Linked DNA regions of Homo sapiens: region 2 is linked to region 1. Evidence: fine-mapped expression QTL. Tissue or cell type: esophagus muscle. Region 1 holds a variant in brackets; the other region holds the start of a gene. All regions are shown on one strand. Distances are from middle to middle.

The links. PIP is the estimated chance that this variant, and not a neighbour inherited with it, causes the effect.
Region 2: it holds the start of VPS26B, and the variant in region 1 is fine-mapped to the expression of VPS26B in esophagus muscle (GTEx, PIP 0.99).

The regions. Positions count from the first base shown.
Region 1 is chr11:133,470,785-133,476,720 of GRCh38, reverse strand. All of the region lies in intron 1 of OPCML (opioid binding protein/cell adhesion molecule like), which reads left to right. Among named protein-coding and RNA genes, the nearest start is that of OPCML, 59 kb to the left of the region's middle. The variant C/T (reference allele first, on the strand shown) is at 2,480.
Region 2 is chr11:134,222,133-134,227,600 of GRCh38, reverse strand. VPS26B (VPS26 retromer complex component B) reads right to left here and starts at 2,930. Exons shown (of 6, transcript NM_052875.5): 1 at 2,256-2,930. The coding sequence starts at 2,478. NCAPD3 (non-SMC condensin II complex subunit D3) reads left to right here and starts at 3,634. Exons shown (of 35, transcript NM_015261.3): 1 at 3,634-3,738. The coding sequence starts at 3,675. RefSeq lists enhancers at 2,044-2,193, 2,294-2,353, 3,144-3,193 and a silencer at 2,554-3,023.

The sequences.
Region 1 (5,936 bases):
CTGGTATTAATCATCACCAGGACAAAGTCTGCCTTTCCTGCCAGATGATCTGCTTCAGGAATGCAAGTGTTGGGATTACTTTGTTCATTGCTGCATTGCCCACTACCTCCATAGGGTCCAACACATCACAAATGCCCAATGTATTTCTGTTGAATGAATACATGAATGAATGTCCTGTGACTTCTTTCCTACTGAAAAAAAGGCAAATTCACTACGAATGATTGCTACACAGGGAAAATATTTGAAATCTGAACTGTGCAATTGAGCCCATTTTCACTGATACTAAATTTCTCCTATGAAGTTCATTTTGGATCAGAAAAAAAAAAAACTAACAACAGAGTACAAAAAGTGTATGTAGAATTTGTCTTGGTGTTTCTTCTCTCTCTTTACTCACTTCTCTCTGTGCACCCCAATCAGGCCATTTGGGTCGGTCTACAGCAACTTTGACAGGCTTTGGGAGAGTAAGTAGATGTTGTACTGTTTGTCTACTTATAGTTCCATCAAGGGAGTAGCTGTAAGTCCCCAGAGGATGAGCCTGTATGTTGAAAATTACCTTAATGGGTTTTTGGCCCAAACGTGTTTTCCAGACATGCCTTGGTCTCCTGTTTACTTTGCCAGGTCAATTGGGTGGTGACAGCTGTGTGAATATAGGGAGAGCCCTGTCTGGGCCATGATTTTGCTGGTGGTCCTTAGAAGCTTTTGAAGCCATTTTGTCCTTCATCCTCTTTGCACTCCCAGGGAGATTTCCAAATGGATGCAGCTTGCTACTCACTAGCCATTGCCCCTGGGAGGCTCCACTGCCATCTCACCTACCATCCATTCTCCCACCAGGCAAGGACCTTTTATTTCAGTATCTTGGCTGAAAGCATTTTCATCCCGTAGGAATGATCTCAGGGGAGACACTCAGTTTATCCTGTTCTTTGACTGAAGCTGCCTCAGCCACCTAATCCGCCATCCACGCTGGGCTTTCTGTAATACGCTGGGTTTAAATAAATTATATTTTCAAAGGTTAAGACTGGATTTCAGCAGTCAACTCTCCTGCTGATGTCTCTCTTATTTTCTCAACCTAAGAAAAAGAGAGAGAGAGCTGGTAGGTTTATGAAGGAAAGAGATTGTTCCTGCAATCTCAGCTCTGTGAAGATGCTATTAATTCTTTTGCAAAATCTCAAATCCTTCCTTTTCCTTTGTGTTACTGCAATGGGACAGAGAGGACGCTTTCTGTCTGGTGCTTCTTGTTTGGAAGGTCCATGAGCATAGGCTGGATGTTGTGGGGTTGTCTCTTTGTCTGTAATGGATAAAAAAACAAAAGAAGATAGAAAATGGTTGGAGGAGGAGAAAGGTGAAAAGAGAGGAGGAGAAATGAGTGATTGTTTCTCCTGAGGTCTGCAATGTCAAAGAGGTGACTGTTTGTTGCATTTGCATCCTATGTGGCTTGAAATATTTGTATTGTCTTGGACGTGATGCTAGGTGGCAAAACAACAACAACAACAAAAAAACAACAAAAAAAAACCACAAAAACAAAACAAAAACCCTACACACAATAAAAAATAAAAAACAAACATTTCTGAAACATTCAGTTGTGTAGGAATACTATTATTTAAAAACTGCCGAAATATTTCCATAACAGCAACAGGGTATAGAAGAGCAGCCAGGGCCTCCTTGTTTCAGGCCTAGGGGGTAAAGGTGGCATGTCCCACGGATTGCCAAAAACTTTCTTGGTAACCGTGGTAGGTGCCTGCACTGCTTGGCAGGATGTGCTTCCTTGGCAGGAGCATTCCCTCCCATATGTGTGCACGTCACTGGTACCTCCTGAGGATCCTCTGTCTTTGACATAATCTCTGAAGGAAGCAGGCGCTTGCTGTGTGCACTCAAAGGCCAGTGCCCCAGCACATCCGAGACTCCCCACCCTCCTCTCCTATATTCTCTCTCACCCCGACTTCCTGCCATCTGTCTTTTCATGCAAAGAATGAATCTGAAAGAAGTAGGTTCAGGCCAAGTCTTGGAGGGCAACCAGAGTGAGCTGGGTTCTGCGGGTCCATGCTCCTCCAGCCCCGCCCTTCTCTCCTTCAAGAATCCACCTCTCCAGGAATCATGGCTACCTTGCCCCATACCCCCAGCCGCAGCAGGGCTTGAGATGCCTTTTCTGTGCTTCCACAGCACCCTATGATTTTACCTGACTTTAAACTTAGTACAGTTCAGGAAACTCGTCTATTTCTTATTCTTCTTCTACATGAGACTGTAATCTCTTCAAGAATAACATGCTTACCTAGAACAGTGGCTGGTAAACAGCTGGTGATTGATAACAGCTTTTGAATTCATAAATGAATGGCATTCTAGTTGTTCACTTTAGAAGTAGGTAGACCTGATAAAAATGAGAAACATGATTGACAGCTGGGATTTTTACAATGTGTGTTACAAAGAGTCCATCTACTTTCCTATCTGGGCTCTGGTCCTTTATAGCAGACTGTGATATCCTTGG[C/T]GTGAAGCACGTACCATGCATTCTAGTTCAGTCAGAGACTGGCCAATTAAGAGCCCTCAAGGAATATTAAATTCATGTTTACATTAAGAATATAACTATGTATGATAACAAGACTTAAGCTAATTTACTTATTAAATGAAATAAATAAATAACAAGTAGGAAAAAATAGAATGTAAAAAGATGATGGGGTCTTCTATGTACCAAAGAGGTATACTATTTCTATTCTTAGCTAGTCAGTAATAGCTTTGCTTTAACCCTTTTTAGCTCAGCCCATTCTCAATTAGAATCCATTCCAATCACAAATATGTCTTTATTAAAGTGTTACTCTGTAAAATATTATGCTCAGTATAGCATATTCTTAAAAAGCTTTGTAAGTGTGTACAACATTTCCTTCTTCTTTTTCCGGTTATTAGTATGCAGATAGCTCTTGGGAAGCCAACCCTTCCACCAGCCCTGCCCATGTGGGTTGGATGTACTGGGCACAAAGTTAGATCCAGAGATGGCCAGTGATCCAGGCCTAGCCAATGGAAGCAACAAGAAATAGGCAGGGGCCCAGATGTGTCCCAAGAGACTGAACTCTGAGACTTTTGTGGAACAGTTGGGAAGATTATGCATAGAGATCTCAAGACGGCTCCCCTCTCTTTTTGAGTCTCGTCTGATTTTGTTTTCCTTTGTTCTCTGTGGGGTGCTTTTTTGTAGTAACAAAACATGGAGTAACCTTGTTCACTAACCAACCCCTATTTCCTTGTCTCTAAGTACTTGACTCAGCAATTCAACTTTTTAAAGGGGTTGAAATTATTTAAAATTGCAGGCAACTTTAAAGTCAGCAAACCTATTTAGCCACACAATTTTAAAATAAGACTGAACAAACATTTTCACAGGAATTTCGATGCTGCAGGAGAAAGCTAGCATCCTTTTATCAGACACAATGTGTTTTGTTTTCAATGGAGGCCATCTCCTCATCCTCAGGCCTCTCTATCTGGGTTTATTTAAAATTCGAGACTGGGTTAGGTTTCTGTGCTGTTTCCTGCTATTAACCTTTGTCAACCTTGTTGCCTGCCTTAGGGGGAGGTCAAAGTCAAGTTCCAGAAGTAGTCTAGGTAAGTAAGTGTGATATTATAGACTCATCTTTCCTGAAGAATGATTTGAAGTCTCAGCCTTTGTGAGCTCCCAGTATGAAACAGAGAGGGAGAGACAGTCCCAGGGACAGAAAATGCAGCATCAGTATGGTTCTTTGTCCCTTAGTAAAATGGTAAAATGTTGTCCTTTGGGTTAGCTGTGGGCCATTAGTGTGTGGGCAGGTGGGGTTGGGCGCTGGATCACTGGAGGGCTGGGACAGGACTGGGGAAGGGTGGTGCAGCAGTGCTTCCTGTTCCAGTTATTAGGATCCTGTTAGTATCTCCATACCCCAGGGACGAGATTGCCAATTGCTGCAGGGTCTGTTCATAGATATTTTCAGCTAATCTTGGACTTTCATTTGCCAGAAACACTGGAAGATTTGTCTTCACAGATGAGAAAAAATGAAAGGATTCCTTGCAGTAGGAAGACAAAACATAATTGCCACAGGCTATTTCTGGATCCGAGGACTATTTGGGGCTCTGCTGGCAGTCTCAGCATTCAAACTCAGCAAGATACCCTGTTGAGCCCAGGTGATGTGGCCCTGAGAGCTCCTCGATCCCCTAAAACAGCTCTCAGCCAAGCAGAATGGCAGCCGAAGATCGGGGTTTGCCTGATCTGCATCACATCATTATGGAAGTAAGAGCTATTCCGTTCATGATGGAAACCTCTTCCCCACCTTTGCCCAGGTGGCAATGATGCTCTGAAACGCTGCTCCCTAAATACCGTCAGGACTTTCTTGTGCCTGACTGGGACCATGTAAGCAGCACTGCTTCCTCCAAGACACATGGCCCATTGTCTCCTATTTCTTTGTGATCACGAGAAGATAATGCAGAGAAATGCATTTCTATTGAAAGGCCATATTGTACTACTAAAGTTTCACCAGGCAAAGGCTTGGCCCGGCTTCTGGCATTTGCAGAGGATTTGAGGATTAGTGGTGAAATGTTGTGTGCAGAAAAGAAAAGCAACTAAAAGAGCTTCATCTCTGAAAGACAGTGTGTTAAAAGGGTTCACTTGTCTTTTTGACAGTAGAAAAAAAAAATCAAACTTAACTTTTCATTCTCACTTCCATTTTCCTCCAAAAGTCAGCCAATAGGTGGGGTCTGTCAAAGCACAAAGTGCAATAGAAAGATCAGCTCTCATGGTCAGACGTGTTAGGGTCAAGCCCACTTCAGGATGACTGGCAGAATCATGGCATTCTGCTAGGTTTCCAGAAATCCTCCTGCTGGTCAGGGTTGCAGGGACCAGGGACCATTTCCACACCCTTAAACTACAAGTGTCTTTTCTCTACTCCCTCTGTCTTCAATGACTCCTGACCTCAGTTTCTCTTTATAGCATATCCATGTTTTGAAAATAACCTATTCAATTTTAGACCCTGTCATGAGCATCATGGAAACATTTTACTACTCCTCAATCCTTCTGTTTTACCTCAAGTAGTCCGTAAAATATGCTGTAAGTATTCTATTGCTTCTTCCACTCCGGTTTTTTACTCTTGTTTTTTTTAAGAAATCATGTTTCATATTTTAAAAGATACAGAAGGGAATACAGTGGAATATCTGTGTCTTTCTTCCATGCCTATGCCCCAGCCAACCAGTTCCCCTCTCCCAAGATGATCAATGTCATTAGTTCTCAGTATCCTTCCAAAATCTTATATGCATATACAAGCCAATATTCTCTCTAGCTCTCTGTCTGTCTCTTCCTCTTACATAAATGATAGCATACAATACACTCAGCTCTGCATCTTGCCCTTTTACCTACCAACATTTCTTGGAGATCATTCCATATCAGTATATAAAGGCTTCTTCACTCTATTTTACATATTCCTTTGATTGCTTCTGCATCCGTTCCATTCTTCTGTTTCTCCAAAATCTTCCTTTCAAGTTCTGACTTCAGTGCAACTTCTCTTAGGAAGCCATCCCTAGTCATTCCAACCTCCCAGTGATCCCTCCCAATGCTGAGCTGTAGACTGTTGTTTGTTTTCTGAACTACTCATTTCCTGTATTGCTAGCTGTCTTTAATGTACTTGAGTTGTATCTTTCCATATAGACTGATGTCTTCAAGGACAGGGATCATGTCTTATCCTGCTTCGTAGCTCCTATCACACTACGTCATCTAACAGAAGCCTTTTCCTTAGTAGGGATGCAGTTAGTTTGTTGATTTGGTGGACAGCTCAGGGAACAAAATTTGCCAACTCTCTGCCTTTTCAGAGAGTCTGTGTCAGGGACCAGCTTTGTTTGGATTGACCCTGAATGATCTCTCTAGCCACAAAAAAGCCTTCTTAAGCATCTCTGGAAATGCAGACAAACATGGCTTGTCCTGAGCAAGGCACAAAGGACAGCAT
Region 2 (5,468 bases), 750 kb before region 1:
TCAGCAGGGATGATGGATGTCTCAGGAGTAAGGAGATAGACAAGAAATCAGGTGGGGCAGGAACAGCAAGCAGTTTCTTCAACTCCCTTTCATTTAGACCAGAGGAAGGCCTTGACACGGTTCCTAGAACAGCTAATTTCACACTGTCTGGGGCAGAAGACATTCTGGGTTATCTTTCACATACTGGTAAGGTACCACCATCTGGGAGTGATGGTATAGACACAGACTAAACATGCCTGCCAACACTAATTATTATTATGGAGCCAAAGAATCAATGCAATAACTTTAAAACTGCTACTAAAAAATACCTTGCTCAATAGGCAAGGATTTCTCGACTATTTACTATGCGTAGCATAATATGCTTTGGACTCATCCTGTTTATCCTGGGGTTCTTTGCTAGAGATGATTTTACCCTCCAGAGGATATACAGCAATATCTGAAGACATTTTTGTGGTCGCAAGTGGGGGATGCTACTGTTGTCTGGTCAGTAGAGGCTGGGAATGCTGCTAAACATCCCATGACAACATGCCAAACGATGCCAGACATCACAGTGCTGCTACTGAGGAACCTTGCCATCTACCCCACCATTGAACCCAGAAGCAGGAAAGCAGAAGGCATGGAACTCACTCTTCGGCCCCTTTTCTGGTACACTAAGACCTTTCATATTCTGGCTTTAAAATAACAACAAAGAGCTTCCTGTAAGATCAGCCAGTCTTCAACCTGATTTCATGTTCTTAAATACCAGAGGCAAAATGCTTGAGGCTGAGCAGTGAACCCAAGAGCCAGGCCACAAGGCCTCCTTTTCCCAGGGTTTCTCCTACCTGTGTCTCCGTGTTTCCTGCCTCTGTGAAAAAAAGACGGCAAATTCTTTGCTAAACTCTCAGGATAAGAGAGTTTAACAAAGATTCCCCAAGGAAGTCTCTAAAAACAGAGTTATGTATGCAGTGTGTGGTATCGGTATGGATTCTCTACCAGAGGTGTGTAGCTCACAGGGTATTTACTGTGATTCTACTCCTAACCTAACGACAAAAACAACTTATTTTAAAAGTACCCAAGCATTTTAATAATACACAAGAGTCTAAATAAGGCTTAGAATTGGAGACGACCCAGTCTTGACTGGGAGCTCCCCAAATCACTTTACCATTACTGCCTTTTACTGTCTAGTTCTTATTTGTTTATTTGTTTATTTTTTTGAGACAGGGTCTTGCTGGTTGTCACCCAGGCTGGAGTGCTGTGGTGTTATCACAGCTCACTGCTGCCTGGAACTCCTGGGTTCAAACAATCCTCCCATCTTAGCCCCCCGAGGAGCTAGGACTACCGGCAAGCACCACCACGACCAGCTAATTACAAAAAAATTTTTGGGGGTAGAGGCAGGTCTTGCTATATTGCCCAGGCTGGTCTCCAACTCCTGGCCTCAAGCAATCCTCCCACTTCAGCCTCTCAAAGTGCTGGGATTGTAGGCATCAGCCACTGTGCCTGGCGCTGTCTAGTTCCAATGATTAATAATCATGTTTAAAGCATTGAGAAACTCTGATCACTTAATTGTGGTTTTTAGAAACACCATTTCTTTGTCTTTAAACAGAAAATGTGGTAACTGAAAACTTGCATTCTAATAAAGAAGTCTAAGAAACGCAGCCTAGGTAGTCAGATTTAGACTGAAGATTATGGGTCTTCTTTCTGGAAACATGTACAAGCATAGGTAGTTCAGGGCTGAGGTGAGGTAAGAGAGAACTGGTTAGCTCTCTCACACCACATCTAAAGAGAAAAACGGGTTGGTGCGGGCTCTGGGAAGTGGGGCTCGGTGGACGAGCCTCACTTTGCGTCTGGCAGTTGCAGATGGCCGGGCGATGGGAAAGCCAGTATTGGCAGAGCGGTCTCCCCCTAACAAACCCACCTGCAGGCTATGGCCAGAGCACCTCACCCAGAAATCCTGGGGACAAGAAGCAAAGCCGAGTGCATGCCGGAGACAATGGGGAGAACCCATAGGCAAGGTGCCCATCCCACGAGGCACAGCAGGGCGCTTCCTCCCGCCCTCGCCGTCCCCATCTCCCTGGCAGCGCGCTGTCACTTTTGGCAGGGAGGACAGTAACGCAGGGGGAGTCGCCCACGGGCGGGACTTGTAGCTGAACCCCAGGCCTCAGACTGCAGTTGACAAGCGACTGTGACAGGCCTCGCCGGAGGAGCTGGGCCCTGAATCACCCTGCTCCCCGGCCGGCTGTCGGCGCTGGGGGAGGGGGTCCCGGGGGTCGACTCACCGATCTGCCCGATGAACTCGATCTTGATGCCCTGGTGCTCCAGCCGCTTGTTGGGGTTCTTGAGGGCAAGGCTCACCTTCCCGGAGACCGTCTCCCCGTCGTAGAAGAGGAAATATTTCTCCTTCTTCCCGTCCTCCGTCTTGTGCTCGGCCCGCTTCCTACTCTCTGCATCGTTCAGAAGGATTTCCACCTCCACGCTCTGCCCGAAGCCGAAGAAGCTCATCGCACCGCCGGGCCGGGCGGGTCTCGGTAAGGACCGCTCCCTCGCACCGGGGCGCGGGCTGCCCTAGGTAAAGAAGGCCAGAGGGCCCGATGCGCGAGCGCGCTCGGCCGCCGCGGGGCTGCCTGGCTCCGCCGCTGCCGCCGGGCAGTGGGCGCCGACGGACAGCCGGCTCCACGGGGGAGGGGCACGGCCGGGGGAGGCTGGCGGCTGCGGGCTGCGGCGCCCGAGCAGCAATGCACCGAGGAGCAGTGCCCTCGGCCGAGCCAGTCCCAGCCAGTCCCGCGGCCGGTGGCAGTGGGCGGGCGAGGGTCGGCCGTGCAATGCTGCGGGGGGCAGCCGCACAGAGCCGGGTGTGGGTGGCCTGCGCCTGCCGGGTGGGGTCCAGCGCCGAGCAGCGCTGCGAGCTGCCCAGCCTCCGGCGGTGCAACGCACCGAGGCGCTTCGGCGGCTCCGGGCGGGGGAGGGGGCGGGCGAGCTCCAGCCCGGATGCGCTGGAGCAGCGGCGCGCAGGCGCACCCCCTAACGCTCCTGGGACTCCCGGCAGCCCGGAGGAGAGCTCGCTGCGCATGCGCAGGGAGAGCGCGGCCGGCGCTCCAGCGGTCGGCATGGCAGCTGCTACCTCGCTGGGACAGGCTCTGGGCCCACGCGTGCCGCGCAGTCCCTACAGAACTGCAGTTGTCTTGTCTTCTCGGAGTGCTTTCGGCTACTTTTCCCTTATTACTTTAGCTCGATACACGTTGGGCTGCCTTTCACATTCGGATATTACGCTGTTCGAGTGCTGACGGGAAAGGCAGCCCTTTGACACGCACGCGAAATGTCGCCTGACGAGGGCAAAGGTGACAGTTACTACCGGAAGTACCCTATCTCAGATACCCTTTAGATTTTCCCCCATTGAAGAAAAACGAGGCGGGAAAAACGCTGTTAGGGTTTAACTCAGGCCCTGGCTCCTTCTCGAACGAATTAGCGGAACACCCGCAGGAGCCTTGTTTGGCTTCCACTTTTCGGCCCGCCCAGTTCTCTGAGCGTGCGGCGGACGACGCCGGTGATTGGTTGAGCGAATGGAAACGGCTCGGCGCGGTGGTTGGCCAGTGGGAAATTCTGTACGTTGTGATTGGTCCACAGGAACGACTCGGCGCGCGCGCGGGAGCGAGCTTTGAAAGTTGAGCACGGCGGCGGCGAGCCGGTGCCCTGGGATCATGGTGGCGTTGCGGGGCCTTGGTAGCGGCCTGCAGCCCTGGTGTCCGCTGGATCTTAGACTCGGTGAGCAGATGCAGCCGGGAGGCCCGGGGGCCAGGGCGAGGGTCCTATGCGTCCCCGACGATGCCTAAGCCCGGGCCGGGGTGCCGGTGGGGGCGGGGTGGGGGCGCCCGGCTGTCGGCGGTGCCTGGGGTCCCCAGGGCCGTGCCACGCCAGGATTGCGGCTAGCCAGGTTTCCCGTGGGGGCTCAAGCCGGCCAGGCCACCCTTAGAATAAGCGAATGTTGGCCAGTCTCTTCTAGCGCCTGTGCATCTGTTTTCTCGGCCTTCCCCTTCTTCCTGTGCGTGTCTTCGTGCACCTATCTATTCTTACCTATTAAGATGGTTTTAAATTGCAAATCTCTTTCTTCCGCCAGACTTATTTCTTGAACTTCATGTTCATAGGTTCCACTGGATGTCTCACATGCAGACATCATCAAACGTCACATGAGTGAAAATGGGATTCCCAAAGCCTGCTAATGGCACCATCCAAGCCACCAACCCAGGAGTCATGGCATTTCTGCTTCCCCTTTCATGCCCACTACCACTGTCCTGCCTCTGAGGTGTCTCAGGGCAGCCCCGCTCCATTCCTGATGCTGCTGCCTTCATCATAGCCTCGAGCAATTGCAGGAGTATTTTAGCTGCTTTCTGATGTTAACTGTGCCAGCCCATCCCCCACACTTTTGCAGAACGACTTTTGAAAACACAGCTTTGAATGTGTCAAGCCTGTACACCTTTAATGTTTCCCCTTTGTTTCCTAAATAAATGACCACATCCTTGGCATGCTTTATAAGAGCTGCCATTCTCTCCAGTTTGATTTTCCAAGAGCATAACCTTTGGAGTCGGACACACTTGGATTGTTCCCTTGGCTCTACCCCATAGCATCCATGTATTACCGTGCAGGTTGTTTATCCTTGCTAAACCCCTGTTTTCTGATCTGTCAAATGGGGAGTACAATATCTACCTCACAGGGGTTTTTGTAAAGATAAATTTGTACTTGCCACATAATAACTGCTGAACAGATACTAATACCCACAAGCAAACACTGTAACAATTTTGTTCATTTAGAAACACTTTAATTTCTTTCCCTTTGTGTGCTTTGTTACACTGTGCTTGCTGGGAGGCACTTTTCTGCATTTATTTGCCTGGCAAAACTCTTACATTCAGGTCCAATTGAAGAATCATCTTATTCCTCTCCCTCCTCCCCCAGTACTATTCCCTATTAAGCTCTGTAGCATTTTACATTTTACATATCTATTATTTTAACACTCATCCATAGCAAAAATAATAAATACCATCTATTGACTGTTTTTTATGTGGCTAGCACATTGTTAGGGCCTTTATACACATTATGTTTCACAAAAATCCTGTATTTCCAATGATGAAGGAGAGACTAATTATGTGTAAGTGATCAAGTCAGGATATTTGCCTCGTTCTGACTCAAAATTCAGTGGCCTCTCTTCTATCATAGGCTGCTTTTTTTGGTATCCTAAGTGTGAAATGTTGAGATCTTTGTGGACAAGAACCCTCTAGTATTCATCTTTATATCCCTAGAAGTATAAGTGGCTTCCCTAGTATTTTCTCAAAGTGTTTGTTGAGTGAATAGGTGATGTATTTCTTCCTCTTCTTCCATCCTAAGTGAAGTAGCAGAGCAGAAGTTACCTGCATTCGACAGCTGAGAAAATAGGTAGTGAGAGATTTGAATAGTGTAAAGATACTGAGGGAAAAAGACTAACTCAGTGTCTCCTATACTCT